2 linked regions of the Homo sapiens genome follow. The protein of the gene in region 1 purifies or fractionates together with the protein of each later gene. This does not show direct contact. Each region holds a gene or a part of one and is shown in the gene's direction. Other genes may lie near its edges. The genes, in order: SEPHS1 and WDR12.

The links.
Region 2: the proteins of SEPHS1 (region 1) and WDR12 fractionate together in Homo sapiens (co-fractionation; 2 studies listed by BioGRID). This does not show direct contact.

The regions. Positions count from the first base shown.
Region 1 is NC_000010.11:13,321,220-13,337,415, reverse strand, and holds part of SEPHS1 (selenide, water dikinase 1), read left to right. Parts: intron 1-1,065; coding exon 1,066-1,173; intron 1,174-3,444; coding exon 3,445-3,599; intron 3,600-7,627; coding exon 7,628-7,718; intron 7,719-8,965; coding exon 8,966-9,065; intron 9,066-14,368; coding exon 14,369-14,581; intron 14,582-16,196. UniProt on the Homo sapiens protein: Synthesizes selenophosphate from selenide and ATP.
Region 2 is NC_000002.12:202,892,755-202,908,950, reverse strand, and holds part of WDR12 (ribosome biogenesis protein WDR12), read left to right. Parts: intron 1-991; coding exon 992-1,086; intron 1,087-7,831; coding exon 7,832-7,926; intron 7,927-9,313; coding exon 9,314-9,420; intron 9,421-11,535; coding exon 11,536-11,651; intron 11,652-12,731; coding exon 12,732-12,886; intron 12,887-14,324; coding exon 14,325-14,370; intron 14,371-16,196.

The DNA.
Region 1 (16,196 bases):
AAATTTAGATAAGGGCAACTTAACTTTTAAAAATCTCCAGTGGCAATAAAAAAATCTTCATTACCACATTTCTGTTGAATTGTATTTTAAAGTTCCTAATAAAATGACATCATTTACTGGGAAATGCTTCTTTTTCTTTTGAAAACAATATGACTTCAGCCCTGGGTATTTTTTTATTTGTTTCTTAAGATGATTTTTCTGTTTATCTCATACATCCTTGAAAAGAAGCTACAAAAATTTTTTTTGTTTTTTTTTTGTTGTTGTTTATTGACAGTCTTGCTCTGTTGCCCAGGCTAGAGTGCAGTGGCACGATCTCAGCTTACTGCAACCTCCACCTCCCAGGTTCAAGCAATTCTCATGCCTCAGGCTCCCAAGTAGCTGAGACTACAGGTGTGCACCACCATGCCCAGCTAATTTTTATATTTTTAGTAGAAACAGCATTTTACCATGTTGGCCAGGCTGGTCTTTAACTCCTGGCCTCAAGTGATCCACCTGATTCGGCCTCTCAAATTGCTGGGATTACAGGCGTGAGCTATCACACCCAGCCTAAGCTGCAAACATTTCTTAATCCAAGTGCACAAAGACTATCTCCATCTCTATAACCACTAAAGCCAGCCATTTTTAGAATCTGTTTGGGATATGTGGCTGTTTCCAACTTTTCTTTAGGAGAGTTGTTTGCAGGCTTTTTCGCTCCATAGCTCTTCCCCCAAGACTGTCGGTTCTAAACTTGCTTCTCCTCCTCATTCGCTGCACATATACCCCTTCCCCTATCTAAATAAATTGCAGACTTCTAAAATTTAGAATGGAGAAAAACTGGTACATTCTTTGTCCTGCACAAGAAAGAGGTGGTAACAGGAATGTCTGAGAAAAAACGAATGGCCTAGTGACTCTGTGATGCAGGAAAGGTTGCCAGTCTGCAAATCATAGAAACTGAGGACCCCATCCTAGTAGCTGCTACTCCTGGAAAGTCTCCACGTTCTCTGTGGAGTCCACTCCATGGCTCACTCAGTTTCTGCAGATGGAAAGTCCCCGGTCGTCCTTTCTCATGTTTCCCTCTCTTCCCAGGGCAGGATAGCGTGTGCCAATGTCCTCAGTGACCTCTATGCAATGGGGGTCACGGAATGTGACAATATGCTGATGCTCCTTGGAGTCAGTAATAAAATGACCGACAGGGTAAGTAGGAGCTACCCGGCTGCTGCCTGGTCCGTGTTGTCCCGGTGGCATCTCTGGCCTTGGTTAGACTTGGTTTCCCATCTAGAAAGCGAGGAGCCCAGGCCATATGGCTCCCTGCACTCCTTCTGGCTCTCCACTTTTTGGCAGTTACCAGTAAATTAAAATGAGGAAGCCTGGCCTAGTCATCTCTGCACTTCTGCCACCTGCTCCCTTTCTCTCTTCCCAGTAGACTGAAACCAAGACTTTTTTTTTTTTTTTTTTTGAGACAGGAGTCTCACTCTGTCGCCCAGGCTGGAGTGTAGTGGCGCAATCTCAGTCCACTGCAACCTCCGCCTCCCGGGTTCAAACAATTCTCCTGCCTCAGCCTCCCAAGTAGCTGGGATTACAGGCACGTACCACCACACCTGGCTATTTTGTGTATTTTTATTAGAGACGGGGTTTTATCACGTTGGCCAGGCTGTTCCTGAACTCCTGACCTCAGGTAATCCACCTATCTCGGCATCCCAAAGTGCTGGGATTGCAGGCGTGAAACACCGTGCCCGGCCCAAGGCATTTGTGTATATTTTTTTTTGTTTTATTGAGACAGAGTCTCACTCTGTCACCCAGGCTAGAGTGTAGTGGCACAAGCTCAGCTCACTGCAACCTCCACCTCCCAGGTTCAAGCGATTCTCCTGCCTCAGCCTCCCAAGTAGCTGGGATTACAGGGGCACACCAGCACCCCCAGCTAATTTTTATATTTTCAGTAGAGATGGGGTTTCACCATGTTGGTCAGGCTGGTCTCGAACTCCTGAGCTCGTGATCCACCCACTTCGGCCTCCCAAAGTGCTGGGATTATAGGCATGAGCCACCGTGCCCGACCTGTGCATTTTTTAAAATAAAGTTTTGGCCATAGTAATGGTGCCTCAGTGTGAATCAGGCACAGCCTTACAGATGTGGGACACGTGGCACTTAGAGGGCACTCCCTCTGCTGTGGCTGGGGATGTCGTGGACGTAGATGGTGACGGGGGATAGGGCCACCAGGGGCTCACGCCTCTGTGTCATCGCCTAGCATTCTGTGCCCTTGCTGCCTGAACCTGTTCTTTGAACCAGAGATGAATTCCTATTTAGATAGACAGGTACTTGTTTTTGTCCCAAGAGCCCCCAACAGTTTGCCCTGCCTTAGAGAAACTTGAGTTTCCAGTAGGCTCTTTCCTGCCCTTGAACATGGGCTGTAGTCATCAGTGGTGCATGGTGGTCTTGGCGCAGGCTCTGTCAGTGTGGGTTACTCGTAGCCTGCAGCCAAGCCTTGGTAGGATGGATGCCTACTGCAGGGCAGGGGACCTGTGCTTAGGAAGCCAGTCTTGAGATTCTCAAGGAGCACTGGACAGCTGGCTTCCAGCAGTCATCAGACCTAGGGCTGGTCCTGTGCACTGAGTCCAGACAATGTTGGTGTCTGGGCTTTATTTACATTGTTGTCTAGAACATCTTCCAGCATTGGATAAAATGATGACAATGTGAAATATTTTCTAGCTTTTGTTTTTGTTTGTTTTTGAGACAAGATCTCCCTGTGTTGCCCAGGTTGGAGTGCAGTGGTGTGATGAGAGCTCACTGCAGCAGCCTCAGCCTCCCGGGCTCAAGACATCCTCCCACTTCAGCCTCCGGAATAGCTGGGACCACAGGCACATGCCACCACACCAAGCAATATTTTTTTTTTTTGTTTTTGAGATGAAGTCTCACTCTTGTGCCCAGGGCTGGAGTGCAGTGATGCGATCTTGGCTAACTACAACCTCTGCCTCCCAGGTTCAAGCGATTCTCCTGCCTCAGCCTCCCAAGTAGCTGGGATTACAGGCGCATGCTACCACACCCGGCTAATTTTTGTATTTTTAGTAGAGACGGGGTTTCACCATGTTGGCCAGGCTGGTCTCAAACTCCTGACCTCAGGTGATCTGCCCGCCTCAGCCTCCCAAAGTGCTGGGAATACAGGCATGAGCCACTGTGCCCGGTCACCCAGCAATTTTTACATGTTTCGTAGAGAAAGGGGTCTGTCTGCATTGCCCAGACTGGTCTTAAACTCCTGGGCTCAAGCTCTCTGCCCACCTCGGACTCCCAAAGTGCTGGGATTACAGGCGTGAGCGATTATGCCTGGCCCCTAACAACCTTCCCTGTCTGTAAACTTTGAGGACTTCCTTTAGGATTTTATGGTTCTTTTTATAACTGTAAGTGTAAAAACCTTCTTTTCTGGGTTTTGAACAGAATTCTTTGACTTTTTATTTGTACCTTTTTCAACCTTAGGAAAGGGATAAAGTGATGCCTCTGATTATCCAAGGTTTTAAAGACGCAGCTGAGGAAGCAGGAACATCTGTAACAGGCGGCCAAACAGTACTAAACCCCTGGATTGTCCTGGGAGGAGTGGCTACCACTGTCTGCCAACCCAATGAATTTATCATGTAAGTTGATTTTTGTTTCATATCACCTGACCTGTTTTTCTCTCTCTGTCCTCTCTTTTTAAAAATTGATGTATTAAGGTCAGGTGCAGTGGCTCACACATATGATCCCAGACTTTGGTAGGCCGAGGCGGGCAGATCACCTGAGGTCAGGAGTTTGAGACCAGCCTGGCCAATGTGGCGAAACCCTGTCTCTACTAAAAATACAAAAATTAGCCAGGCATGGTGGGGCAAGCCTGTAGTTTCAGCTACTCTGGAGGCTGAGGCAGGAGAATCGCTTGAACCCCAGGGGTGGAGGTTGCAGTGAGCTGAGATCATGCCCCTGCACTCTAGCCTGGGCAACAGAACAAGATTCTGTCTCCAAAAAAAAAAAAGACAAGAACGCAAGGCTGGGCGCGGTTGCTCATGCCTGTAATCCCAGCGCTTTTGGAGGCCAAGGCGGGTGGATCACCTGAGGTTGGGAGTTTGAGACCAGCCTGACCAACATGGAGAAACCCCATCTCTACTAAAAATACACAATTAGCCAGGCATGATGGTACATGCCTGTAATCCCAGCTACTTGGGAGGCTGAGGCAGGAGAATCACTTGAACCCAGGAGGCTGCGGCTGCAGTGAGCCAAGATCGCGCCACTGCACTCCAGCCTGGGCAACAAGAGCGAAACTCCATCTCAAAAAAAAAAAAAAATAGATGTATTAAGATATAATTTGCGTACTATACCATTCACCCATTTAAAGAGTCAGTGGTTTGGAGTATACTCAGAGTTGTACAGCCATTACCGGAGTTGATGTTAGGATGTTTTCATTGCTACAGGAAGAAACCCCATCCTCCTCGGCTCTCACTGTTCACTCCTGCTCCATCCTGGATTTTGTCACTTAGCATAGTATTAGCATACTTTTAAGGGTCATCTATTTTGTAGCATGTGTCAGTATTTTAATCCTATTTTTAAGACATTTTAGGTGTTTTTGTTTTTTTTTTTTGAGACGGAGTCTTACTCCGTCGCCCAGGCTGGAGTGCAGTGGTATGATCTCGGCTCACTGCAAGCTCCATCTCCCGGGTTCATGCCATTCTCCTGCCTCAGCTTCCCGAGTAGCTGGGACTACAGGCACCTGCCACCATGCCCGGCTAATTTTTTGTATTTTTAGTAGAGATGGGGTTTCACCATGTTAGGCAGGATGGTCTCGATCTCCTGATCTCATGATCCGACCGCCTCAGCCTCCCAAAGTGCTGGGATTACAGGCGTGAGCCACCGCGCCCGGCTGACATTTTAGGTTTTTTAGTTGAAGTATAATTCACGTAACAAAATTTCACATAACATAGAATTCAGCATTTTGAAGTACACAATGTGTTGGTTTTTAGTATTGACAAGGTTGTGCACCCATCACCACTATCCAATTCCAGAATGTTTTCATCACCCCAAAAAGAAGCCCTGTAGCTCACTCCCATTTCCCTCCTGCTCCCATCCTCTGGCAACCAAGAATGTGCTTTTGTCTCTAAGGATTTGCCTGTTCTGGACATTGTATAGAAATGGAATCGTGCAGCATGACATGCTGTGTCTGGCTTCACTCCCATAGCGGAATGTTTTCCGGGTCCATCCGTGTTGTAGCATGAATCGGTATCGCATTCCTTTCCATGGCTGTATAATCCATTGCATGGATGGACCCTGCTTTATTTAGCCATTCCTCAGGTGACGGACCTTTGGGTTGTTTCCACCTATTAGGAATGATGCTGCCATGAACATTCTAAGTTTTTGTGTGGACATAAGTTCCGGTCTCTTGGGTGTATACCTAAGAATTGACTGGGTCATGTGGTAATTATGTTTAACTTGAGGAATCATCAGACTGGTCTCCAACATGGCTGCGCCATTTTACGTTCCCAGCAGCAATGTATGAGGATTCCAATTTCTCTATGACCCCTCCAGTACTTGTTTTCCTGTCTGTCTTTTGGATTCTAGCCAGCCTACTGGGTGTGAAGTGGAATGTCTTTGTGGTTTTGATTTGTGTCTGCCTGATGACTGATGAGGCCGAGCATCTTTTCATGTGCTTACTACCCATTTGTGTATCTTCTTTGGAGAAGTTTCTCTCCTAACCAAGTTGTCACTTTCCATGTTTGATGTCTTGTTAAGAAAAGTCAGTCTTTTGGCCGGGCGTGGTGGCTCATGCCTGTAATCCCAGCACTTTGGGAAGCCAAGACGGGTGGATCATCTGAGGTCAGGAGTTCAAGACCACCCTGGCCAACATGGTGAAACCCTGTCTCTACTAAAAATACAAAAAATTAGCCGGGCACGATGGCAGGCGCCTGTAATCCCAGCTACTCAGGAGACTGAGGAGAGTGGTTTGAACCCAGGAGGCGGAGGTTGCAGTGAGCCAAGATCGTGCCACTGTACTCCAGCCTGGGTGACAGAGTGAAACTCAGTTTCAAAAAAAAAAGATCTAGAATTAGAAATACCATTTGACCCAGCAATCCCATTACTGGGTATATACCCAAAGGATTATAAATCATGCTGCTGTAAAGACGCATGCACACATATGTTTATTGCAGCACTATTCACAATAGCTAAGACTTGGAACCAACTCAAATGTCCATCAATGATAGACTGGATTAAGAAAATGTGGCACATACACACCGTGGAATACTACGCAGCCGTAAAAAAGGATGAGTTCATGTACTTTGCAGGGAGATGGATGAAGCTGGAAACCATCATTCTAAGCAAACTATCAAAAGGACAGAAAACCAAACGCCGCATGTTCTCACTCATAGGTGGGAGTTGAACAATGAGAACACTTGGACACAGGGCGGGTAACATCACACACCAGGGCCTGTCGGGGGTAGGGGGCTGGGGGAGGGATAGCATTAGGAGATATACCTAATGTAAAGGACGGGTTGATGGGTACAGCAAACCAACATGGCACATGTATACCTATGTATCAAACCTGCATGTTGTGTACATGTACCCTAGAACTTAAAGTATAATTTTAAAAAATTTAAAAAAAAAGAACATCAACTTTATGGTACAACTGAGTCTGAATTCGAAGACATTTATGTCTTCAGGTCTGGTTTTTGGAAAACAAGTTTCTTGCGTAGTCACAGAATTCTATTTTTCAAAGCTGAGAGTGGATACAAATGGTATAGGTTGAGCTGGGGAGCTGGGTGTTGGTATTGAAGTCTGTGGCCCTGGCTTTGTTTTCATCGACTTGGGTGAGTACCTGAGGAGGCCAGCATCGGGGAATGGAACGATTCAGGAGCTCAGCTGCTGAAGCTGCGAAAGGCACAACTCTCAGACCTGCTTCCTGGTAGTGTGAATGCAAGTCTGGTAGATGTTTCATTCGGGCACCAGTTGTCATCTTTTAGAGGTGCCTTTTTAGTATTGCCTTCTGTCTCTAAGACAGGGACCACCAAGGCGTCTGGGTGCCAGGTAGGAAACTCACCATCAGTCAGTCTGAGTTTGAGAACCTGGAGGCAGAAATCACCAAGACATTAGACCCACAGATTGCCTGCAAATCCACCAAACCCCTGGGCCGAAAAATCCGTCCTGAGTCTCTAGCATATCAGTGATCATAAAGAAGCACTCTCTGTTTCAGAAGCTTTTGAATGCTAGTGGGTCTGTAGTGAAAATTACACATACACTCGTATGTGGTCGAGGGGAAATCTGGGCCTGATGAAACGTTTGAAGGCTAAATGTTTCATTCTTTTTAAAAATATGTATATTATTTTTGAAATGGGGTCCTTGTTGTGTTGCCCAGGCTGGTCCTGAACTCCTGGGCTCAAGTGATCCTCCCCTCTTGACCTCTCAAAGTGCTGGGGTTACAGAAATGAGCCACTGTGTCCAGCCTGATGGCTGAATGTTTTGTTCCAGCAATAGCCTCAGTAGCAGGTTGCAAGGCTCTGTCCCATACATGCTGGTAGTTGGCTTCAATTTAAGTAAATGCAAAGGCAGATATATTTTTGACAGATTATTCCTTCTCTTGTGTTAATAACAATGAGCTCATCTCCTTGGTTAGTTTGACTAGAACATGCCCTTTTCTTTTCTTCAGGCCAGACAATGCAGTGCCAGGGGACGTGCTGGTGCTGACAAAACCCCTGGGGACACAGGTGGCAGTGGCTGTGCACCAGTGGCTGGATATCGTGAGTAAACCACTGCTGTGATGGGAGGGAGGGGAATGGTACGTTTGCAGGTAATTTTTGTTGGAGGATTTGGGAAATGAGGTTTTTTAGTTTCATATCCAGGGAGTTAATATTAGTCAAGTCCTTAAAGAAATCCTAGGAATTGTTCATAGTCTTTAAATAACAGTTTTGCATATTGAATGCTTGATTGCAGTAGGTAAGCCCCAGCTTGGAGCTTTAAGATTTTTCTGTAAAGAATTTGCTCGGCAGGGGGTTAGCTTTGTTTACTTGGCCCTGAGATAGCTTCGTCTTTCATGTCTTAAACATCACTAAGAAATAATATGAAGGAGAATTGGTGGAAGGCGTAGTGTTTGGGGTATAAATAAAACCAGGGTTATTGACAGTTTAAATTGTTTTATGCAGTTTTTGGTTGTTTTTGTTTGGTAGTTTTGTCTTTTTAAACTGATGAGTAACTCAGAACATTTTGATAAATAATTCTCTTGTGCAGAATGAATCTATCTATAATGAGGATATGTCTTGTGAGTCATTTTTCCAGTGAGCTATAATCATACTTTAAGATTGGTTTTCTTCATTGCCGTAACAACTCACAAATTAATAAGATTGGGGTATATTCTCACATATCATGGTGCATTTAATTTCTACAACTATCATCTGAAACTACCAGTCCTGAGAAACAGTTGAAAGAGAATAATCAATAATTACACGTCTTTCATCAACCTGGTATATCTTAGCTTGATGTCGCAGGGTAGAGAAATTCTCTAAGGCTGCCACGTTCTTTAGCAGTTTTTCCCTCCTCCCCCTGTGATGGGGAGCAGAGCAGAAGGCCACTGCGGGGATGTTGCGCAGAGGTGCCTTCCAGCCCCACCTCCCAGGCCTGAGCTAGCAGGGAGCTGGAAGCAGGTGAGGCAGGGAGTGTCACGGATGGGGGAGCCCTTCTCCACTAGCAGGACACTACACTGCATGTACAGCAGTGCCGCCGTGTGTCCCGCTAGACTACACATACCCAATAAATCACAGCACTTAATTACAGAAATGTGGGATGAGAACAGAAAAGACGCCATGCTGACAGGTCTAATGGACACCTAAAATACTATCCACAGAAAAACCAGAGTTGGAAAATTCAGTTTTCTGAATTAAAGTCCCTAGAAGTTAAATAAGAAAAAGTTGCTGTTTTTCTCAGTTGCTAGAAGTAAAGATTAATCACATTTTCCTCTCTTTCTCTCCCTCACCTACATTTCTATTATCAGCCTGAGAAATGGAATAAGATTAAACTAGTGGTCACCCAAGAAGATGTAGAGCTGGCCTACCAGGAGGCGATGATGAACATGGCGAGGCTCAACAGGACAGGTATGACAGGTGGGAAGGGCGCTTCGGTCCCAGGGGTCCAAGACAGTAAATGTCTTAGGCTTTTCTGGCCACATACTGTCTCAGGGTAGGTGGCCAGATTTTTGGCCAGTGACTACAGACCGTCTTCTCCTGGTACCAGGTTGGCATTCCATAGATCACTGCAGATGGTCCCTGACTTACAGTGCTTTATAATTAAGAAGGAAGTCCTAACTTCTGACATACCAGAGGAACTATTTCTAGAAAGCGTTTGTGTGGGTTACCTATGTAAGATTTGGAAGCAAACCATTCAGAATGGAAATTTAGAAAGTTTAAGATACTGGAGCTATTTCCAGAACATAACCTTGGAAGTCTAGAAGTGCCCCCACTCCCACCCATCCCCTGCATTCCTGCTTAGGTGTAACCACTGAATTTTGTGTTTATTTTCTTGCATTTTAGAATATTTTTATTGCACAGCCCTTGTGTTCTTAAGCAGCAAATTAGTTTTGCATTTTTTTTACTTGTTTTGTTCACCATTGTTCCTGAGAGTCTCCTTGTTATATGTAGCTGTAGTAGATTCCTTTTGGCTGTGTTGATTTTTCCACTGGCTTCTCTGCTCTCCTGTTTCACACTGGGGCGACTGCTATGGACTTCCTTGGCCCAGCCCTCTGAGGCACGTGTAAGAGATCAGTACTGGCTCAGCTTTTATAGATAGTGCCAAACTGTCTTCCAAAGTGTTCACCACAGTTTACAATGGCACACTATGTTTAGAAAGCGTTTTTTAATATGTCTTCTCTTCCCATTTATTTTATACATTTTTTCTACTATAAAAGAATTACATGCTTATTATAGAAAAGTTTTTAGAAAATGGAAAATAGTACAGAAAAAAGTTGTCCATAGTCCCTCCACCCAAAACAGCTCCGGCTAGCATTTTTATGTATTCTTCCAGGACTTTTTTTCATGTTTGGCTGGTGATTTACTATTGTTGTTTTAAAGTAGTGGTTAGTATAAGTTTTCACTATGTAATGGTTAGTATATGTATTTGGAGTGCCTGCTTTTGTTGTTTTGACATGACTAATGTTTCCCATATTATGTATCCTAGTAAACTTTTTTTTTTTTTTTTTTTTTTTTTTTGAGACAGAATCTAACTCTGTCGCCCAGGCTGGAGTCCATTGGTGTGATCTCGGCTCACTGCAACCGCTACCTACCAGGTTCAAGCAGTTCTGTTGCCTCAGCCTTCCCAGTAGCTGGGACTACAGGCACGCATCATCACCATGCCCGGCGGATTTTTGTATTTTTGGTAGAGACAGGGTTTCACTATGTTGGCCAGGCTGGTCTCGAACTCCTGACCTCAGGTGATCTACCCTCCTTGGCCTCCCAAGGTGCTAGGATTATAGGCGTGAGCCATAGTACACATAATTTTTAATGACTAGATAATGTTCTACCAGAGAAATGTACCACAATTATCTTTTACCTATTGTTTTACAATTCATTTGGAAATAAAAATTTTCTGTAATTTGTTGTTACTTGTAAGAAAGTTATAGCCAGGCACAGTGGCTCACACCTATAATCCAGCACTTTGGGAGGTTGAGGCAGGAGGATCACTTGAGTCCAGCAGTTGGAGACCAGCCTAGGCAACATAGTGAGACCCCATCTCGTCTCTTTAGCTGCGCCTGGTGCATTCCTGTAGTCTAAGCTACTCGAGAGGCTGAGGTGGGAGGATTACTTGAGCCCAGGATGTTGAGACTGCAGTGAGTGGTGATCATACCCCTACGCTTCAGCCTGGGTGACAGGGTGAGATCATGTCTCAAAAAAAAAAAAAAAGTTATAGATCAGAGGAACAGAATAGAGAATCCAGAGGTAGGTCCATATTATAGTCAACTGATTTTTTTTTTTTTTTTGAGATGGAGTTTTGCTCTTTCGCCCAGGCTGAAGTGCAGTGGCAGGATCTTGGCTCACCGCAACCTCCGCCTTCCGACTTCAAGTGATTCTTCTGCCACAGCCTCCCAAGTAGCTGGGATTATAGGCGCCCGCCACCACGCCTGGCTAATTTTTGTATTTTTAGTAGAGATGGGTTTTCACCATGTTGGCCAGGCTAGTCTTGAACCCCTGACCTTGTGATCCGCCTGTCTCGGCCTCCCAAAGTACTGGGATTACAGGCGTGAGCCACTGCACCTGGCCTAGTCAACTGATTTTTGACAAAGGAGTAAAGGCAATTCATTGGAGAAAAGAGTCTTTTCACCAAATGGTGCTGGAACAAGTGGACATTCACATGAAGAAAATTATTCTGGATGCAGATCTTATACCTTTCGTGAAGATTAACTCAAAATGAATGTTTAGTGTGTTTTCACACTGCTATAAATAGCCAAGACTGGATAATTTATTTATTCATTTATTATTATTATTATTATTTTTTTTTTTTTTTTTTGAGACTGAGTCTCTTTTTTTTTTTTTTTTTTTTTTTTTTTTTTTTTTTTTTGAGACGGAGTCTCGCTGTCGCCCAGGCTGGAGTGCAGTGGGGTGATCTCGGCTCACTGCAACCTGTGCCTCTCAGGTTCAAGCGATTCTCCTGCCTCAGCCTCTGGAGTAGCTGGGATTACAGGGCGCACGCCACCACACCCCACTAATTTTGGTATTTTTAGTAGAGACGGGGTTTCACCATGTTGGTCAGGCTGGTCTTGAACTCCTGACCTTGGCCTCCCAAAGTGCTGGAATTGCAGGCGTGAGCCACCATGCCCAGCTGACTGGGTAATTTATAAAGGAAAGAGGTTTAATTTACTCACAGTTTCACATGGCTGGGGAGACCTCAGGAAACTTACAGTCGTGGCAGATGGTGAAGGGGAAACAGGCACCTAGGTTCTTCATGAGGCAGCAGGACAGAGAAGAGCAGGGGAAACTGCCACTTACAAAACCATCAGATCTCATGAGAATTCATTCACCCTGACGAGAACAGCACGAGGGAAACCGCCCTCATGATTCAGTCACCTCCCACCAGGTCCCTCTCTTGACATGTGGGGATTACAATTCGAGATGAGATTTAGGTGGGGACACAGAGCCAGACCATATTGATGATTCGTAGACCTAAATAAAACACAACAATATAAAACTGGAAGAAGGTAACATCAGAGAAAATTGAGGTGGCTTTGGGTTTGGTGATGACTTTATAACACCAAAAGCACTATCTATTAAAAAATTGCTAAGTTTGGCTTTATTAATATAAAAAACTTCTGCTCGGTGAAAAACACTGTTAAGGAAATGAAAAGACAAGCCACAGACTGGGAGAAAAATTTTGCCAAACACATACCTGTTCAAGGTCAGGTATCCAAAATATACAAAGGACTCTTAAAACTCAATAATAAAAAACAACTCAATTTAAACATGGCCCAAAGACCTTGACAGACACCATGAAAGAAGATAACGCAGATGGCAAATAAGCATAAAAGGAAACCTTCAGTGTGGTACGTCAATAGGGAACTGTAGATTAAAGCAGTGATTGAGATGCCACCACATACCTGTTAGAATGGCTAAAATCCAAAACACTGAGAATAGCCTGGGCAACATGGTGAAACCCCATCTCTACCAAAAAAATACAAAAAATTAGCTGGGCATGGTGGCTTGCGCCTTAGTCCCAGCTACTTGGGAAGCTGAGGTTGGGAGGATCCCTTGAGCCCAGGAGGTCGAGGCTGCAGTAAGCTGTGATCGCACCACCTCACTCCAGCCTGGGTGACAAAGCGAGACCCTGTCTCAAAAAAAACCCAAAAACACTGATAATACCAACTGCTGGCAAGGATGTAGAGAAACAGGAAGGAACTCTCATTTATTACTGGTAGGACTGAAAACTGGCACAGCCACTTTAAAAGTCAGTTTGGCAGTTTCTTATGAAACTAAATATGTTATTATATGATGCAGCGATTGTGCTCCTTGATATTCACTCAAAAAAGTTGAAAACTTACATTCACACAAAAGCCTGCAGACAAATGTTCATAGCAGCATTATTCATAATTGCCAGAACTTGGAAGCAGCCATTCATTTCTTCAGTAGGTGAGTGGATGAATGGATAAACAAAATGTAGTGTATCTGTATGATGGAATATAATTGAGCAGTAAAAAGAAATGAGCTATCAAGCCATGAAAAGATGTGGAGGAATCTTAAGTGCATATTACTAAGTGAAAGAAGCCAGTCTGAAAAAGCTCCATACAGAAGGATTCCAACTGCATGACATTCTGCAAAACTGTAGAGATGCAGAAAGGATCAGTGGTGGCCAGAGGTTATCGGAGAGGAAGGGGATCAGGTAGAGCAGAGCACTGAGGATTTGTTACTTCCCACTTAATTTCTTTCTAAACGCAAAACTGCTCCAAAAAATAAAGTCTGTAAATTTTTTTAAAATTAAATAATAGGTCGGGTGAATGGATAATTAAATAATAGTAGGTGAGTGGATGAATGGATAAACAAAATGTAGTGTATCTGTAGTATGGAATATTATTGAGCAGTGGCTCACACTTGTGATCCCAGCGCTTTGGGAGGCTGAGGCAGGACGATTGCCTGAGCCCAAGTGCAGTGAGTTATGATCATGCCACTGCACTCCAGCCTGGTCAATAGAGCAAGACTCTGTCTCTTAAAAAAAAAAAAAAGAAAGAAATTTAAAAATAAACTTGCACGCAATTCACCTTTCGCGGGAGTACCTTGATACTGAGCAAGGCCTTCTTAAAAAGTGCTGGTCTTGGCCGGGTGTGGTGGCTCACATCTGTAATCCCAGCACTTTGGGAGGCCAGGGCGGGCGGATCATGAGGTCAGGAGTTCAAGATCAGCCTGGCCAATATGGTGAAACCCTGTCTCTGCTAAAAATACAGAAATTAGCTGGGCGTGGTGGTGCGCACCTGTAGTCCCAGCTATTCAGGAGGCTGAGGCAGGAGAATCACTTGAGCCCTGGAGGCAGAGGTTGCAGTGAGCCGAGATCGTACGACTGCACCCCAGCCTGGATGACAGAGCGAGACTCCATCTCAAAAAAGGAAAAAAGTGCCGGTCTTTGGTTTTAGGATGGTCTTGGCCGGTTTACCTTCCACTGAGATCATAATCCCTCTGCATAGTTTTTTTAGTTTACTGGAAAACTACTATTAATTGAAGCTTCTGATAGTTTTCAGGTGGCTCAAAGTGAAATAAGAACTTTTGGAATTTCACTATGTCTTTGGTTGATTTTACATTGCGTTTTCATTATTCCGATACGTCATCTCCCTGACAAGTAAGGAAGTTGCAGATTAATTGTGGACGTAAGATTTTTGAGTTGAGGAAAGGTGTTTTTTCTCAGAGCCGCCCCCTCTCTCTCCCAGCTGCAGGACTCATGCACACGTTCAATGCCCACGCCGCCACTGACATCACGGGCTTCGGGATTTTGGGCCATGCGCAGAACCTGGCCAAGCAGCAGAGGAACGAGGTGTCGTTTGTAATTCACAACCTCCCGGTGCTGGCCAAGATGGCTGCGGTGAGCAAGGCCTGCGGAAACATGTTCGGCCTCATGCACGGGACCTGCCCGGAGACTTCAGGTACAGGATGCTGGGCGCATCTGAGGACTAAATAGTGAGGCTAACAGAAAGCTCAGCGAGAAAGCAGCAGCCCCACCCCGAGTGGGCCCCCACTCTGTTCGAGTTCCATGCTGCTGACCTCGGCCTCCGCAGCAGCTGGTGCCTTTCCTCCTCCCGGTGGGTCTGGTCCCCGCCATCCTGGGTGGATCCAGCAGCCTTGCTGAGGTTGAGTGGCCTGTGCTCTTTTTGATGCAAGGATATGGTGATGGGGGAAATAAGGTAGCATTCAGTTTTTACTGAAAGCTTCGCATTTGAAATTAACTGTAATACCCCTAGGTTACTTTGAACAGGTGATATTTTTTTCCTTGAAAATTGTCTAACGTTGTTTTAAGAATGATAGAGAGAAAAGGGGCCAGGTGTGGTGGCTCTTGCCTGTAATACTGGCACCTCAGGAGGCTGAGGCAGGCACATCACGTGAGATCAGGAGTTGAAGACCAGCCTGGCCAACATGGTGAAACCCCATCTTCACTAAAAATACAAAAAAAAAGTAGCTGGGCGTGGTGGTCCATGCCTTTAATCCCAGCTGCTTGGGAGGCTGAGCCAGGAGAATCACTTGAACCTGGGAGACAGAGGTTGCAGTGAGCCGAGATTGCGCCACTGCACTCCAGCCTGGGTGACAGAGCGAGATTCTGCCTTAAAAAAAAAAAAAAAAGAAAAGAGAATGATACAGAATAAAAAAGAATGCAATAGGATATTATGTCTTTAAAATGCCATTTTTCTTTTTTCTTAGATGTGCAGTAATTTATTAGAGGAAACATAAATGGAGGATAAACGGGAGATGGAGCAAGCGTAGGTAGAGAGAGCCATCAGACAGCAGTGCAGGTCTGACACCATACGCCCCAGTAGTTTGACTCCTAGGGAGCTTTTATATCCCTTATCATTTTTCTAAGATTAAGCTCCTTTTGTTTCCTGATTAATTTGGTGGCCACATCTGTCCGGAACTTGTGGGACGTCCTCCTCTTCATCATGGCAGGTACTCCAGCATGGCCTGCCGGCCGCCGAGGCCGCCACCCACAGCCTACAGGCTCGCCATCGCTCATTCCCACTCCCGCAGCCCCAGCTGGAGCCAGATGGCGCGTCCTCCTGAAGTACCATTTCTCTTTTGCCCCCTTTGTTCCCTTTACCTTTACTGTTTTCATCTTTTAAGTCTCCCTGTTTTTCCCTTTTTTTCGGTTTCTCTCTTTTTCTATTTCCTTTCCTCTAGAACTCTAGTTTTCTACCCGCAAAAGAGTGGAATCACCTTAGGATTTTAAATATACACATGCCGGCCAGGCCTGGTGGCTCACGCCTGTAATTCCAGCACTTTGGGAGGTCGAGGTCAGGAGTTCGAGACCAGCCTGACCAACATGGTGAAACCCTGTCTCTACTAAAAATACAAAAATTAGCGGGGCGTCGTGGCGTGTGCCCTGTAATCCCAGCTACTCCAGAGGCTGAGGCAGGAGAATCGCTTGAACCCAGGAGGCACAGGTTGCAGTGAGCCAAGATCGCCCCACTGCACTACAGCCTGGGCGACAGAGTGAGACTCTGTCTCAAAAAAAAAAAGAAAAATACACATGCCTAGCCCCAGCCTCCCAAA
Region 2 (16,196 bases), on another chromosome or scaffold:
ATGAGCATTTGCATGTCCCTATTGGGCCATTTTAAAATTTGTGTTGTCTTTTTATTATTGAGTTGTAAGTGTTCTTAATATAGTCTAGATACAAGTTCCTTATTAGATACATGATTTGCAAATATTTTCTCACAGTCTCTCTTATAAGAGTCTCCTAATCTGCCTCCTGTCATGTGTTCCTCTATTTCAGTGCCCATTGTGCAGCCAGAAAGATCTAACTAAATAAAATCTGATGATACTTCTAATTTGCACTGCTGTGATAGTTCTTCATTACCCACAAAAAAGAAGTAAAAATGATTTCACATGATATATAAAGCACTCCATGTGTATCTCTTTAGCCTTTGGTCACTTTGGAGCAAAGTCAGATTTTCTGGAAGTGGCTGGGCAGTTTAACAACTCCTAGCTATTGTTTTGATGTTCTCTCTGGTTTCGTCCACACTGCTTCTTCCAGCCTACCCTTCCCTCACCTGGCAAAAACTCACTTCTCTTTTGAGACAGGGTCTTGCTGTGTCACCCAGGCTGGAGTGCAGTGCAGTGGTATAATCTCAGCTCACTGCAGCCTCGACCTCCTGGGCTCAGGCAGTCCTCCCACCTCAGCCTCCCAAGTAGCTGGGACTACGGGCACATGCCACCACGCCTGGCTAATCACTTTTCTAAATGTTGCTTAACAGTTATCTTTTCTGTGGATCGTTTCTGGCCCTGCTCCCCTGCCCTCCTTTTCTGTGGTTAAAATGACCTATGGTGTCTTTGTTCTTTTTATACATGTCACCTAATGGCATTGTTCTTATATAACTTCATTCTATTTGATTACTAAACTTCAACCTCATCTTAGAACAGAGACCATGTTTTAATTCATTTTTGTTTACAACATGTAGCAAAATGTCTGGATGTCTGGCATTTATTTACCCAATAAATGTATGTTGAATTCGTAAAAGCATGTTTGTTCAAATATCTGTAGACTTGATCTTGACATATCATTTCCTTTTTATAGATATGCCGTAGATGATGTTCCCTTCTCAATCCCTGCTGCCTCTGAAATTGCCGACCTTAGTAACATCATCAATAAACTACTAAAGGACAAAAATGGTGGGTATATATGCTTAGGAGAGGGCACAGTGTCCCTAATTATTCTAAAATGCATTAAGTTTTTAGTTCCTTTTTTGGCCTTATGATACTGTATGAATTTTGTAGTGGTAAAATTTGTAAGTTATAAAGTACAGGTTCTTCTGCTGGATGATACTGTAAATACTGCTTTGAAAGAAAAGTTTTCAGAAAAAAATTTCTGTTTAATCTGTTTTTAAGGCCATGTGGAAATATGGTGGTTGTAGTTAAGGAATAAAGATTTTGGTATAAAGTTGTAATATAGAGGTAATCAAGACATTGATTGTTCTACAGAGGGCTGAGTTATGCAGGCATAAAACAAGCGTTTTAGTGCTTAGGCCCCATTTACTAGTGAAGCACAAAGCAAAATGACAATATCAGTATTTGAGTGTTTAGTGTAATATCAAAATGACAGTATGAATACCAGTATTTTATTTTTTGTGTCCAGAATTCATAAAAAAAGGATATAACAAAACATGGAAGAATATAAAACATTTAAAAGATACAAATATTAAATATATACTATTGTACTAATATAAGTTATTTGCCCATTAAATTAATATGAACAATGTATGTAAAAATATCAATGAAATAAGATTGGCTATGAGTTAATAATTGTTGAAGTTTGTAATCCCAGCACTTTGGGAGGCCGAGGCGGGTGGATCACGAGGTCAGGAGTTTGAGACCAGCCTGACCAACATGGTGAAACCCCGTCTCTACTAAAAATACAAAAATCAGCCAGGCGTGGTGGCACATGCCTGTAATCTCAGCTGCTAAGGAGGCTGAGGCAGGAGAATTGCTTGAACCCGGGAGGCGGAGGTTGCAGTGAGCCAAGATCGCACCATTGCACTCCAGCCTGGGTGATAGAGGAAGTCTCAAAAAAAAAAAAAATGTTGAAGTTTGGTGATAGGTGTAAGGAGGCTCCTTATATTATTTTCTGTATCTCATTGTAGTTTTGATTGATATTTCTGAACTTTTCCATATGTATGAAATTTTCTATAATAAAGTATTTTTTAAAAAGTAAAGAAACATTACATAAAATAGAGAAAATTTAAACATGAAACATTAAGTGATTCTCCTGCCTCATCCTCCAGAGTAGCTGGAATTACAGGTGCCCGCTACCATGCCTGGCTAATTTTTTGTACTTTTAGTAGAAACGGGGTTTCACCATTTGGCGAGGCTGGTCTCGAACTCCTGACCTCAGGTGATCCACCCTCCTGGGCCTCCCAAAGTGCTGGGATTACATGTGTGAGCCACCATGCCCAGCCAGAGGCAAGTGTATTTTTATGCAGATGTTTCCAATGCTGCAGAGCTCTTCTGACTCTACCGTAGTTGGAGGAATGAGGAGGTAAGAGTTATAAACTAATGTGTAGTATTTTCCCCATCTTCGTCTTCAAATAATCACATAATTTTTTTGTGAAATTTGAGGTGATGTTTTTGAGCAACTTTATTGGCTTGGGGTGGGGGAGGAGGGGACAGGGTTTGCAATCTTTTTATTGCTAGTTACAGTTCAATATTCAATATTCAAGGATATTTACATAGCATTTCCTGTTGCTCCTTGTTTTTGTTTTCATCATGGATATATAGAGATTCTGATGCATAGTTACCTTTATAAATTTCAAAACTGTTATATAGTCTATTTGTTGAACAAGTCTTTGAACTAGAATAAGAAATATTCTTTTTAATTTTTGTAGGTACGTGGTAGGTGTATCTATGGGGTACATTAGATATTTTGATACAGGCATATAAGGTGTAATAATCACATCAGGGTAAATGAGGTATCCATCACCTCAAGCATTTATCCTTTGTGTTACAAACAATCCAATTATACTCTTCGTTGTTTTTAAATGTATAATTAAATTATTGACTATAGTCATCCAGTTGTGCTATCAAATACAAGATCTTATTTATTCTTTCAATTCTTTTGTACCCATTAACCATCCATTTCCACTTGCCTCTCACTTCCCCCACTACCCTTCTCAGTGTCTGGTAACTCTCCTTCTACTCTGTATCTCCATGAGTTCAATGTTTTAATTTTTAGCTCCCACAAATAAGTGAGAATATGCAAAGTTTGTTTTCTGTGCCTGGCTTATTTCACTGAACATAATGACCTCCAATTCTACCCATGTTGTTGTAAATGACAGGATCTCATTCTTTTTTATGGCTGAATAGTACTCCATTGTGTAGAAGTATTGATTTCCTGATTTCTCTACTTTTGAGTATATACCTAGCAGTGCTATTGCTGGATCATATGGTAGCTCTATTTTTAGTTTTTTGAGGAATCTCCAAACTGTTCTCCATAGTAGTTGTACTAATTGACATCCCCACCAAGGTTTATGAGGGGTCCCTTTTCTCCATATCCTCACCAGCATTTTTTATGGCGTGACTTTCAGATAAAAGCCATTTTGGCCTGGCGTGGTGGCCCACGCCTGTAATCCCAGCACTTTGGGAGGCCAAGGTGGGTGGATCATGAAGTCAAGAATTTGAGACCAGCCTGGGCAAAATAGTAAACCCCATCTCTACTACAAATACAAAAATTAGCCAGGCATGGTGGCAGGTGCCTGTAAACCCAGCTACTCAGGAGGCTGAAGCAGGAGAATTGCTTGAACCCGGGAGGCGGAAGTTGTAGTGAGCCGAGCTCGTGCCACTGCACTCCAACCTGGGTGACAGAGCAGGACTCCGTCTTGGGAGGGGTGGGGAAAAACGCCATTTTATCTGGGGTGAAATGATATCTCATTGTAGTTTTGATTTGTATTTCACTGATGATCAGTGATGGTGAGCACCCTTTCATTTACCTGTTTGCCATTTGAATTTTCTTTTGAGAAATGTATGTTCAAACCTTTTGCCCAATTTTTAATCAGATTATTAAATTTTTACCTACAGAGCTTTTTGAGCTCCTTATATATTCTGGTTATTAATCCCTTGTCAGATGGGTAGTTGGCAAATAATTATTCCCATTCTGTGGGTTGTCTCTTCACTTTGTTAATTGTTTCCTTTGCTGTGCTTTTTAACCTGATGGGATCGCATTTGTCTATTTCTGCTTTGATTGCCTGTGCTTGTGTGGTATTACTCAAGAAATTTTTGCCCAGACCACTGCCCTGGGGAGTTTCCCCAATGTTTTCTTGTATTAGTTTCATAGTTCGAGGTCTTACAAATATTTAAGTCTTTAATCCCTTTTGTTTTGACTTTTGTATGTGGCAAGAGATAGGGGTCTAGTTTCATTTTTTTTGCATATGGATACCCAGTTTTTCCAGCACCATTATTGAAGAGACTGGCTGTTCCCCAGTGTAGGTTTGAGTTCACTGTAGATGTGTGGATTTGTTTTGGCTTCTCTATTCTGTTCCATTGGTGTATGTGTCTGTTTTTATGCCAGTACCATGCTGTTTTGGTTACTATAGCTCTGTAGTATAATTTGAAGTCAGGTAATGTGATTCCTCCAAGTTTGTTCTTTTTGCTTAAGGTAGCTTTGGCTATTCTGGTTCTTTTGTGGTTCCATGTAAATTTTAGGATTTTTTTTTTTCTGTGAAGAATGTCATTGGTATTTTGATAAGGATTGCATTGAATCTGTAGGTTGCTTTGGGTACTATGGACATTTTAACAATATTAAATTCTTCCAATCCATGATCCTGGAATATCTTTCCATTTTTTTGTGTCCTCTTCAATTTCTTTTTTTCTTTTTCTTTTCTTTTTTTTTTTTTTTTTTTTTTTTTTGAGACAGAGTTTCACTCTTGTTGCCCAGGTTGGAGTGCAATTGCGTAATCTCACCTCATGGCGACCTCCACCTCCCGGTTTCAAGCGATTCTCCTGCCTCAGCCTCCTGAGTAGCTGGGATTACAGGTGCCTGCCACCACGCCCAGCTAATTTTTGTATTTTTAGTACAGCCTTGGTTTCACCATGTTGGCCAGGCTGGTCACGAGCTCCTGACCTCAGGTGATCCACCCGTCTCAGCCTCCCAAAGTTCTGGGATTACAGGCATGAGCCACTGCACCCAGCCCTCTTCAATGTCTTTCATCGATGTTTTATAGTTTTTGTTGTAGAGATCTTTCACTTCTTTGGTTAATTCCTAGGTATTTTATTTGTGGCTACTGTAAGTAGAAATACTTTCTTGATTTCTTTTTCTGATTGTTCGCTGTTAGCATATAGAAATGCTACTGATTTTTGTATCATGCAACTTTACTGAATTTATCAGTCCTAATTGGTTTTTGGTAAAATAAAGATTATATCAAATATAACGTTATATCATTGATTTTTCCAAATATAAGATCAAATCATCTGCAAACAAGGATAATGTGACATCTTCCTCTCCAATTTGGATGCCCTTCCTCCCTCCCTCCCTCCCTCCCTCACTTCCTTCCTTCCTTCCTTCCTTCCTTCCTTCCTTCCTTCCTTCCTTCCTTCCTTCCATCTGATTGCTCTAGCTAGGACTTCCATTGCTGTGTTGAATAACAGTGGTAAAAGTGGGCATCCTTATCATGTTCCAGATGTTAGAGGAAAGGCTTTCAGTTTTTTCCCCATTTAGTATGGGGGTCTATTATATATGAATTTTATTATGTTGAAGTATGTTTTTCTATACCCAGTTTTTTGAGGGCTTTTATCATGAAAGGATGTTGAATTTTATCAAATGCTTTTTCAGCATCAATTGAAATGATCATATGCTTTTTGTCCTTCATTCTGTTGATATGATGTATATATTAGGGTTCTTTAGAGGGACAGGACTAATAGAATAGATGTATATATGAAAGAGAGATTTTTTGTTTTTTTGGTTTTTTTTGAGACGGAGTCTTGCTCTGTCGCCCAGGCTGGAGTGCAGTGGCACGATCTCGGCTCACTGCAACCTCCACCTCCCGGGTTCAAGCAATTCTCCTGCTTCAGCCTCCCGAGTAGCTGGGATTACAGGCGCGTGCCACCACACCCGGCTGGCTAATTTTTGTAGTTTTAGTAGAGACGGGGTTTCACCATGCTGGTCAGGCTGGTCTTGAACTCTTGGCCTCCCAAAGTACTGGGATTACAGGTGTGAGCCACTGCGCACAGCCGAGAGGGAGTTTATTAAGGAGTATTGACTCACACGATCACAAGATGAAGTCCTACGATAGGCTGTCTGCAAGATGAGGAGCAAGGAGGCCAGTCCGAGTCCCAAAACCTCAAAAGTAGGGAAGCCGGCAGTACAGCCTTCAGTCTATGGCCAAACACCTGAGAATCCCTGGCAAACCACTGGTCCAAGAATCCAAAAGCTGTAGAACTTGGAGTTCAATGTTTGAGGGCAGGAAGCACAGGAGTAAGATAAAGGCCTGAAGACTGATCCAGTCTAGTCCTTCCACATTCCTCTGCCTCCTTTTATCCTAGCCATGCTGGCAGCTGATTAGATGGTACCTACCCAGATAGAGGGTAGGTCTGCCTCTTCCATTCCACTGTCTCAAATGTTCATCTCGTTTGGCATCACCTTCACAGACACACCCAGGAACAATACTTTGCATCCTTCAATCCAATCAAGTTGACACTCAGTGTTAACCATCACAGTGTATTACATTGATTTGTGTATGTTGAACTATTCTTGCATCCCTGGGATAAATCTTACTTGGTCATGATGATCTTCTTAATGTGTTGTTGAATTTGGTTTGCAAGTATTTTGTTGAGGAAAGAATTATTCCTGTAAGAGAAGCTTTGCAATTCCAGTATGTTACCCAAATAGTTGGGTAACATTTTTCTAAACATATAGACCGAACATTATTCCTTCTGTATAGACTGTTACCATATTGCAACTCTGAAAGAAATGAATGTAAGTACAGTATTGGTTCTCAATAGCTGTTAATCCCGATAATTAGGTAAAAGACTGACAAGGAGCATTATGGTGGATAGAATCAGACTGATATAATCCAAGCCCTATGATGGGTCTTAATATCTTAAAAAGAGACACAACCAGAACCTATTTACATCCTGATGGGATGTAACAGGAAATAGACAATACTGCCTGTGAATATTCTTGTCAAAAAAAACCCAAAAAACCCTGAAATCTAACCAGGCATTTACCATTTACCTCTGACTAGTTTATAGGATATTTGTGTGATAAAGAAGCATGTTAAAGGACACCTTGGAGATGGAGTCAACAAAACCCAGAATGTTACAAAACAGATGACCCACTTTCATCAACAAATACATGGCAAGGAGAAAAAGGAGGAGGAACTGTTAAAGATTAAAAGAAACATTAATCAAATATAATGTATGGATTATGGATGCTGATTTTTGAAAGCTCACTGTAAAAGAACATTGACTATTTGATGTTAGAAGGAGTGATTGTTAAATTTTAAAATATTGTGACAAATTTTTGAAGTCCTTATATTTTAGAGATACATACTAAAGTATTTACAGATGAAATGATATAATTTCTGAGATTTGCTTTAAAATAAACCAGCCGGGGAATGGAGGGTGGAATATAGATGATGTCCCATTAGTTGGTGGATGTCAAAATGGGCAATAGTGATGAGATTCATTGTTATTTCTACTTTTGTGTATGTTTGAAATAATAAAAGTTTTCTAAACCAAAATAATTACACCAACAACAGTAAAAAGACATTATACTAACAGAACAAAGTATTTCTGATCTTAAAAATCACAGAGAAACTCAGGCCACACTGGGATAATAGGTACCTGTTTGTTTTGGGAGTTCTCATATACCTCTGCCAATATTACTTTAGACACTAAGAGTGATAATTTTGTTATGTATTTTCCTCAGAGTTCCACAAACATGTGGAGTTTGATTTCCTTATTAAGGGCCAGTTTCTGCGAATGCCCTTGGACAAACACATGGAAATGGAGAACATCTCATCAGTAAGTTCAAATTCTTATCTTCTGTATTTCACTTGAGGCATTATCGGCTATTGTAGGTAAACTCCTTTTAGAATCACACTGAATCTATCTTTAGTAGCAAAGATTCTTTTTAATATATTGGCTATATATGTTGTGTGTGTTATGTATTGTGTGTATATTTTATGTGTGTATTGAATATATATAGTGTGTGTGTATATATATATGTATATTCCTGTATATTCAATTTTGAAGCCCTCTTTTTTTGTGAGAGTGTTTTATTCAAGAAATAAATGAACACATTCTTTATATTTGTGGAAGAACTGGCAAGAAAGGGAATAGCAAATATGTGTGTACAAATACTGGTGCACAAAATAACTGGGCAAATATAAAAACTATGGGTTAAGTTACTGTTATTTTTCCCTTTTATTTTCAAAGTTTCCTTATATTGCTTTTATGATTAAAAATATAACTTATAATTGTTGCTTGTTTTGTGATTTTAAAAATTGTGGTAAAATATACATAACATAAAATTTAGAATTTTAACCATTTTTAAGTATACAATTCAGTGGCATTAAGTGCCTTTGCAGTATTATGCAACCATCACCATTTTCCAGAATTGTTTCCTTATCCTAAACAGAAGACCTGTACCCATTAAACAATGTGCTTTTTTTCTTAATTTTAATGTTTTCTTTTATCTTCTTTTTTTTTTTTTTTTCTGAGACAGAGTCTCCATCTGTTGCCCAGGCTGGAGTGCAATGGCACAGTCTTGGCTCACTGAAACCTCTACCTCCTGGGTACAAATGATTCTTGCGCCTCAGCCTCCAAAGTAGTGGGATTGCAGGCATCTGCCACCACGCCTGGCTAATTTTTGTATCTTCAGTAGAGACAGAGTTTCACCATGTTGGCCAGGCACATCTTGAACTCCTGATCTTAGGTGATCCACCCGTCTCGGCCTCCCAAAGTGCTGGGGTTATGGGTGTGAGCCACTGCACCTGGCCTAAGGCTTTCTTATATTCCTTTCCCCCCCATTTGCAGCATAAGTTGTACAAGGCGATTAATATTTCTTCTTTTTAAAATTTTTGTTAGGAGACAGGGTCTTGCTTTGTTGCCTGGGCTGGACTTGAACTCCTAGGCTGAAGCAGTCCTCCTGCCCCAGCTTTCCTAATGTTAATAGCTGGGACTACAGGTGTGAGTCACCATGCCAAGCTATTATTTCCTAATATCACTCTTAGCTTACAGTTAGGTCAAATAAAGTTCTTGACTTTTTGAATGGCTCCAAATTTGCTGAGTTATAAAGGGGACTAATATGAAGGATATAAAGGAGATATATTAAATTGGGGGTTATCTTCATAATGTAATATTTTAAAACTAGACCACCTGACTTGTTGCTGGTTTCTCTTGTGATTAGGAAGAAGTTGTGGAAATAGAATACGTGGAGAAGTATACTGCACCCCAGCCAGAGCAATGCATGTTCCATGATGACTGGATCAGTTCAATTAAAGGGGCAGAGGAATGGTATTGCCAGATTAATGCCCTTCTCTTTTTTTTGTTTTGTTTTTACCTCCTTCAGTCTTTTTAAATCCATATATACATATTTTTCTGTGATTTAATGTTATTTGTAAATTAATTTTGTGATCTCTGTATCAGTGGCCATGGCAAACAGAAAGATCTTTTCATTCAGTGTCTTCAAGAAGAAACAGGTGGCTGGGTGCAGTGGCTCATGCCTGTAATCCCAGCACTTTGGGAGGCCGAGGAGGGTGGATTACGAGGTTGGGAGATCGAGACCATCCTGGCTAACATGGTGAAACCCTGTCTCTACTAAAAAAGTACAAAAAATTAGCCGGGCGTGGTGGTGGGCGCCTGTAGTCCCCGCTACTTGGGAGGCTGAGGCAGGAGAATGGCGTGAACCTGGGAGGTGGAGCTTGCAGTGAGCTGAGATGGCCCCACTGCACTCAAGCCTGGGCAACAGAATGAGACTCTGTCTCAAAAAAAAAAAAAAAAAAAAAAAAAAAACCACAGGTATTTATTAATAGGTACTCTTTTTCTGTTCTGTTCAATATGTGGTAGTAACAATTATTGTTGCCTTTTTTTTTTTTTTTTTAAACGGGGTCTCTCTCTCTTGCCCAGGCTGGTCGCAAACTCCTGGGCTCAAGCAGTCCTCCTGCCTCAGCCTCCTGAATAGGTGGGATTTCTCTACACCCAGCAATATTTGTCTTCTGAATAAGTCATGTATCTTAGAGCATTTAATTTATTTGGTTCGATTATGTTGCTTTTAAGACCAAGGATATAGTTTGTTTCATAAAGGAAAAAAGTAACTTTTATAGCCATAGATCTCCTGGCCTAATACCTTAAAGATGCATAGCATACTATTTTAGGGCTAGAAGGAGCAGACTGGACTCAGCAAAGAAGGTACAGATATCTTAGGGCAAATCCTCACTGGCCTTACTTGTAGGAAAACAACTCAAGAGTAGATTATGGTAGGAGCTTCTTTCAAAGAATGCCTTCTTGGAGTTATTACATAAAGTTATATTTCTCCTAGTTTTACTTTTAGTTTAAATGGTTTTCACTGGTTAAGTACAAAATACTTCAGGTGGACAGCCAGGCGCGTGGCTCACGCCTGTAATCACAGCACTTTGGGAGCCTAAGGCAGGTGGATCACTTGAGATCAGAAGTTTGAGACCAGCCTGGCCAAAATATTGAAACCTGTCTCTACCAAAAATATAAAAAATTAGCCAGGTATGGCGGTCTGTGCCCATAGTCCCAGTTACTCGGGAGGCTGAGGCAGGAGAATCACTTGAACCCAGGAGGCAGAGGTTGCAGTGAGCTGAGATCGCGCCACTGCCTTCCAGCCTGGGCAACAGAGCAAGACTCCATCTCAAAAAGAAAAAAGAGTACTACAGGTTGGGTATTCCTTATCTGGAAATGTTTGGTACCAGAAGTATTTTGGATGTAGGATTTTTTTTGGGTGGGGGTGGTTTTGGAATATTAACATATACATAGTGAAATATTTTAGGGATGTGATCCAAGTCTAAACATGAAATTCATTTATGTTTCATATACAGCTTATACACCTAGCCTGAAAGTAATTTTATACTATGTATATATATGATATATATTTTTTATATATATATATATATTTTTTTTTTTTTTTTTTTTTGAAACGGAGTCTCGCTCTGTCACCCAGGCTGGTGTGCAGTGGCGCAATCTCGGCTCACTGCAAGCTCTGCCTCCTGGGTTCACGCCATTCTCCTGCCCCAGCCTCCTGAGTAGCTGAGACTACAGGCACCCGCCACCATGCCTGGCTAATTTTTTGTATTTTTAGTAGAGACAGGGTTTCACTGTGTTAGCCAGAATGGTCTCGATCTCCTGACCTCGTGATCCGCCTGCCTCAGCCTCCCAAAGTGCTGGGATTACAGGCGTGAGCCACCACGCCCAGCCATGCCAGGTATTATTTTTAGGAGGTTGAGAAACGTCAAGTGATCTGATCTAGTATGGCTTGAAATCTCAATCTTCATATCAAAAAAGAGTTTAAAAGTATAATCCTCAAAGTTACTTTGTCATTGCCAAAGAAACATTTCAGGGTTTGGAAAAACTGCTTTTTGTGTTTCATAAGATTTTTTTTTCTCATAGGATCTTGACTGGTTCTTATGATAAGACTTCTCGGATCTGGTCCTTGGAAGGAAAGTCAATAATGACAATTGTGGGACATACGGATGTTGTAAAAGATGTGGCCTGGGTGAAAAAAGGTTAGGACAGTTTGCCTACACTTAGAGGAATCCTAGATAGGGATTTGGAAATAAGCCATTTTTGGTGCTGGGGAAGAATGGGGAGTGGGTGGGAAGTATCTCATACCTCAGTTATTATGAGGTCTTTCAAAAAATACAGTGTTCAAGAAGAAAAAGATTATATAAAAAATTCATAAATTGTTAGAAGTGTATCTTTATTAAAATTACATCAGATAATATACATTTTCAAGTTAATATTGAATGTATTACATTCATCTTTTATTTTCTTCTGTTTTTGTTTGTTTGTTTTGTTTTGTTTTGTTTTGTTTTGTTTTTGAGATAGTCTCGCTGTGTCACCCAGGCTAGCGTGCAGTGGCATGATCTCGGCTCACTGCAACATCCACTTCCCAGGTTCAAGCGATTCTCCTGCCTCAGCCTCTCGAGTAGCTGGGACTACAGGCACCTACCATCACGCCTGGCTAATTTTTGTATTTTTAGTAGAGACGGGGTTTCACCATCTTGGCCAGGCTGATCTCGAACTCCTGACATCATGATCCACCCGCCTTGGCCTCCCAAAGTGCTGGGATTACAGGCGTGAGCCACTGCACCCAGCCTGTTTGTTTGTTTTTTGAGGCAGAGTCTCACTCTGTCGCCCAGGCTAGAGTGTAGTGGCTCCATCTCAACTCACTGCAACTTCCACCTCCTGAGTTCAAGTGATTCTCCTGCCTCAGCCTCCTGAGTGGCTGCAATTACAGGCGCCTGCCACCACACCCGGCTAATTTTTATATTTTTAGTAGAGGCAGGGTTTTGCCATGTTGGCCAGGCTGGTCTCAAACTCCTGACCTCAAGTGATCTGCCTGTGTTGGCCTCCCAAAATGTCAGTATTTACAGGCGTGAGCCACCACACCCAGTCATCGTCATCTATTTTTGAAGAATCTTTTCTTTATACCACATCAGCCTTTTAAAACCTGGCCATATGAGTTATCTTTTTAACATCTTTTTCAATAACAACAAAAAAATTTAGTTCTTTGGTTTCAGAACATGATGTATTCTAAATGGTATACTGATTTGTTTCTTATTCTTGTGTTCTCCTTTCTCCAGATAGTTTGTCCTGCTTATTATTGAGTGCTTCTATGGATCAGACTATTCTCTTATGGGAGTGGAATGTAGAGAGAAACAAAGTGAAAGCCCTACACTGCTGTAGAGGTCATGCTGGAAGTGTAGATTCTATAGCTGTTGATGGCTCAGGAACTAAAGTAAGTAGCTAGAATATTATTAGTACTCTGTTAAATTTGAATTTGAGCTTGTTGCTAAACATTTTCTTCTGCATATATTCATTGTGTTGGCCTAGTTTCCTAACAATCGGTGACAAAAGATAGGATTTCAAAGCAAGAGTAAATACTCATACAATAGGAGATAGTCACTTGCTCAGTTTGAATCCCTGGTTTAGAACCTTATATAAACTCCAGAAATTTTAAGAAATGAGGTATGGGCCGGGCGCGGTGGCTCACGCCTGTAATCCCAGCACTTTGGGAGGCCGAGGCGGGCAGATCACCTGAGGTCAGGAGTTCAAGACCAGCCTGACCCACATGGAGAAACCCTGTCTCTACTAAAAAAAAAAAAAAAAAAAATAAGCCGGGCATGGTGGCGCATGCCTGTAATCCCAGCTACTCGGGAGGCTGAGGTAGGAGAATCACTTGAACCCGGGAGACAGAGGTTGCAGTGACCGAGATTGCACCGTTGCACTCCAGCCTGGGCCCAACAAGAGTGAAACTCAGTCTCAAAAAAAAAAAAAAAAAAAAAGAAAGAAATGAAGTAAACAAGCCATTCATTTATATAACCTTCTTACCTCATAGTAATTGACATATTTCCAGTCTATATCAGCTACTCTTAAGTGCTGTCATCAACTGAAAACGCCTAGTTGATAGTCTGAGCATTAGCATACACTAAAGTTAGTGCTAATAGAGTTTTACTATAGTATCAATCTACTCTTTATCATGACAAAATGGTAAAAGTTAGTTAAAAGGTAACAAACCTGAGGGCAATACCATATTGATTTATTAATATGAAGGGTTATAAATCCACTTAGAATTTGAAAGTTTCCTAAGCCACATTGAAGTATTCTGGACTTAAGAGTGTTTCTTTGACAGTTAGGGTAACAGGATGCTTGTATTCAAAGGTGAAGATTTATGATTTTTCATATTGAGCCGAAAAGTTTTATATGTTGTTTAGTCCAAACTTTAGTGGATTAACTGTACCTCTTCTTTTTGGTTAAGGAGAGATAGAAACTCAACTTGAACTTATTTAACCTTAAAAGTAAATGGATTGTGAGATCCAAGGAAAGATTGAACAACCACATCACAAGAAGGGTAATGGTGCATTTGGGCCTCAGGAACCAGTGGAATAGAGGCTTGAATGTGGTCCGCACACCCTCTCGCTGTCTTGTCCCTCAAGTTGACTTTATTCTCTCTCACTTCAGATTGGCTTTCTTCAAAAGACATGGCAATAAGCTTGGCCTTCAAGATTTCCCAGATTTTATGTTCTGTCCTATCTGCCCCTGGAAAAAGGCTAATTTCAGTTCTGTGGAACACAAGTTCTTTGAAAAGGTCCTGAATGAGGAAGAGACCTACTGTTGTAGGCAAATAATATGAATCATATTACATATGTCTTTTCCCTTCATATACATCTGTTTAGTTTTGCAGTGGCTCCTGGGATAAGATGCTAAAGATCTGGTCTACAGGTAAATTAAATATTTATTTTACCTTGACTTAATAATGTTGTTTCAAAAATTTAAATTCGGAGGCTATATGGTGGCTTACGCCTATAATCTCAGCACTTCAGGAAGCCAGGGTAGAAGGATCACTTGAGGCCACGAGTTCAAGAGCAGCCTAGGCCACATAGTGAGACCCCGTCTCTACTAAAAGTAGAAAATTAAAATTAGCAAGGTGTGGTGGTATGCACCGGTAGTCCTAGCTCCTTGGGAGGCTGAGGTAAGGGGATTGTTTGAGCCTAGGAGTTTGAGGTTTCAGTGAGCTATGATACCATGCCACTGCACTTCAGCCAGGGTGATGGAGTGAGAACCTGTCTCAAAAAAAAAAAATCAGTTTAGTGAAAGGGGACTTTTTAACCCATATTTTGCCATAAAAAGAGACCAGTATGGCAACAAATTCATATATTTCTTTGTGTTTCAAGATTTTTTTTTTCCTACCCCACCACCCCCTTACTTACAGGATAGTGTCACTGAATTGCAAGTATCAAAAACATGTTTGGTGCAATAGGACATAAATACCTTGATTCTCAAAGTTCTCTTATTCAGGAAACTTGGAAGTAAATAAAAATACTTTCCGAGCCATTTTGACTTAAGTAATGTAAGAATGACTTTTGAGTCATTTTACTGTTAATTTCTTAGGTAAGCTGGTTTACTTAAAAAAATTTTTCAATGCAGTTTTACCAATATTAATATTTTTACTCTGAAAGCATAGATTAAAAGGAGCAAATTGAGGGAGGAGGAGGAAGGACTTTGAGAGGAAGGTGCTTTCATAGTAGTAAGAAGACACTGATGAGAAGAAAAGAGGAAAAAACACACACCCATAGATACTTACATTTTAAGACCTAGTAGCTACAACTATTTATTGCATAGGTAAACAAATCAGAATACCTCTGTTACTTTTTAGGTAATTGCTGTGTTACACAGTATAATACCCCAAATGCATTTCACAAAGACTTGAGGGGGATCAAGAAAAGCTTAACCAGTTTTGAATAATTATGTGTAAGATGGTGGGAAATATATAATCCGTTTTAGTAGATTTTACAAAAATGATGAAAGCAAATAATTTGGTGGCAAAAAGTGATTTAGTTTAGAAAATTCTTTAGTAGAATTTTTTATTTTTTGATAGGGCTGAGTAAATGAGATTGTATATGATTAGCTATTAACTTTAAGTGGTTTATAATCTAGTTTGAGAAATATTAATATCCATAAAAGCCACAAAACGTTTTAATGTTTTACATATTTTGTTACATATTTAATGTAACATAATATGCATGTTACTATATATAACATATAATGTAACATACATTACATATTTAATGTTGCATATTTTATGTAGTTTTCAATCTGGGTTTGCTGCTTAACCAAGTGATGTATAACAAAGATTTTAAAAACTCAAAAAAACCAGAAACATTTTTGGTAGAAAAATGAAATTAAGAGAATAAACATGGCTGAAATGTATGTGCGTTTATCATGTGTTTACTTTATCCTTCCCTCCTTCATAATGTAAATGTAATGTCATAACTCTCCTACAACTAACAGTAAGCAATTTTTCATAGCTATGATAAAATGATAAATATTTATAATGATGACCTTAAAGATAGCAAGATTTTAAATTACTTAGATTTTAGTTTTCTAATATAGTTTATGTTTTATTTTTTATTTTTAGAGATTGGTAATCTAGGTAATATTTTATATATAACTTTCTGTTAACCAAAATGATGAGGAATATTCATTCCCTAACTGTGTGATAACGTGGAAAAACTATATCTGGAAATGTAAAGAATTCTTTCAGACAG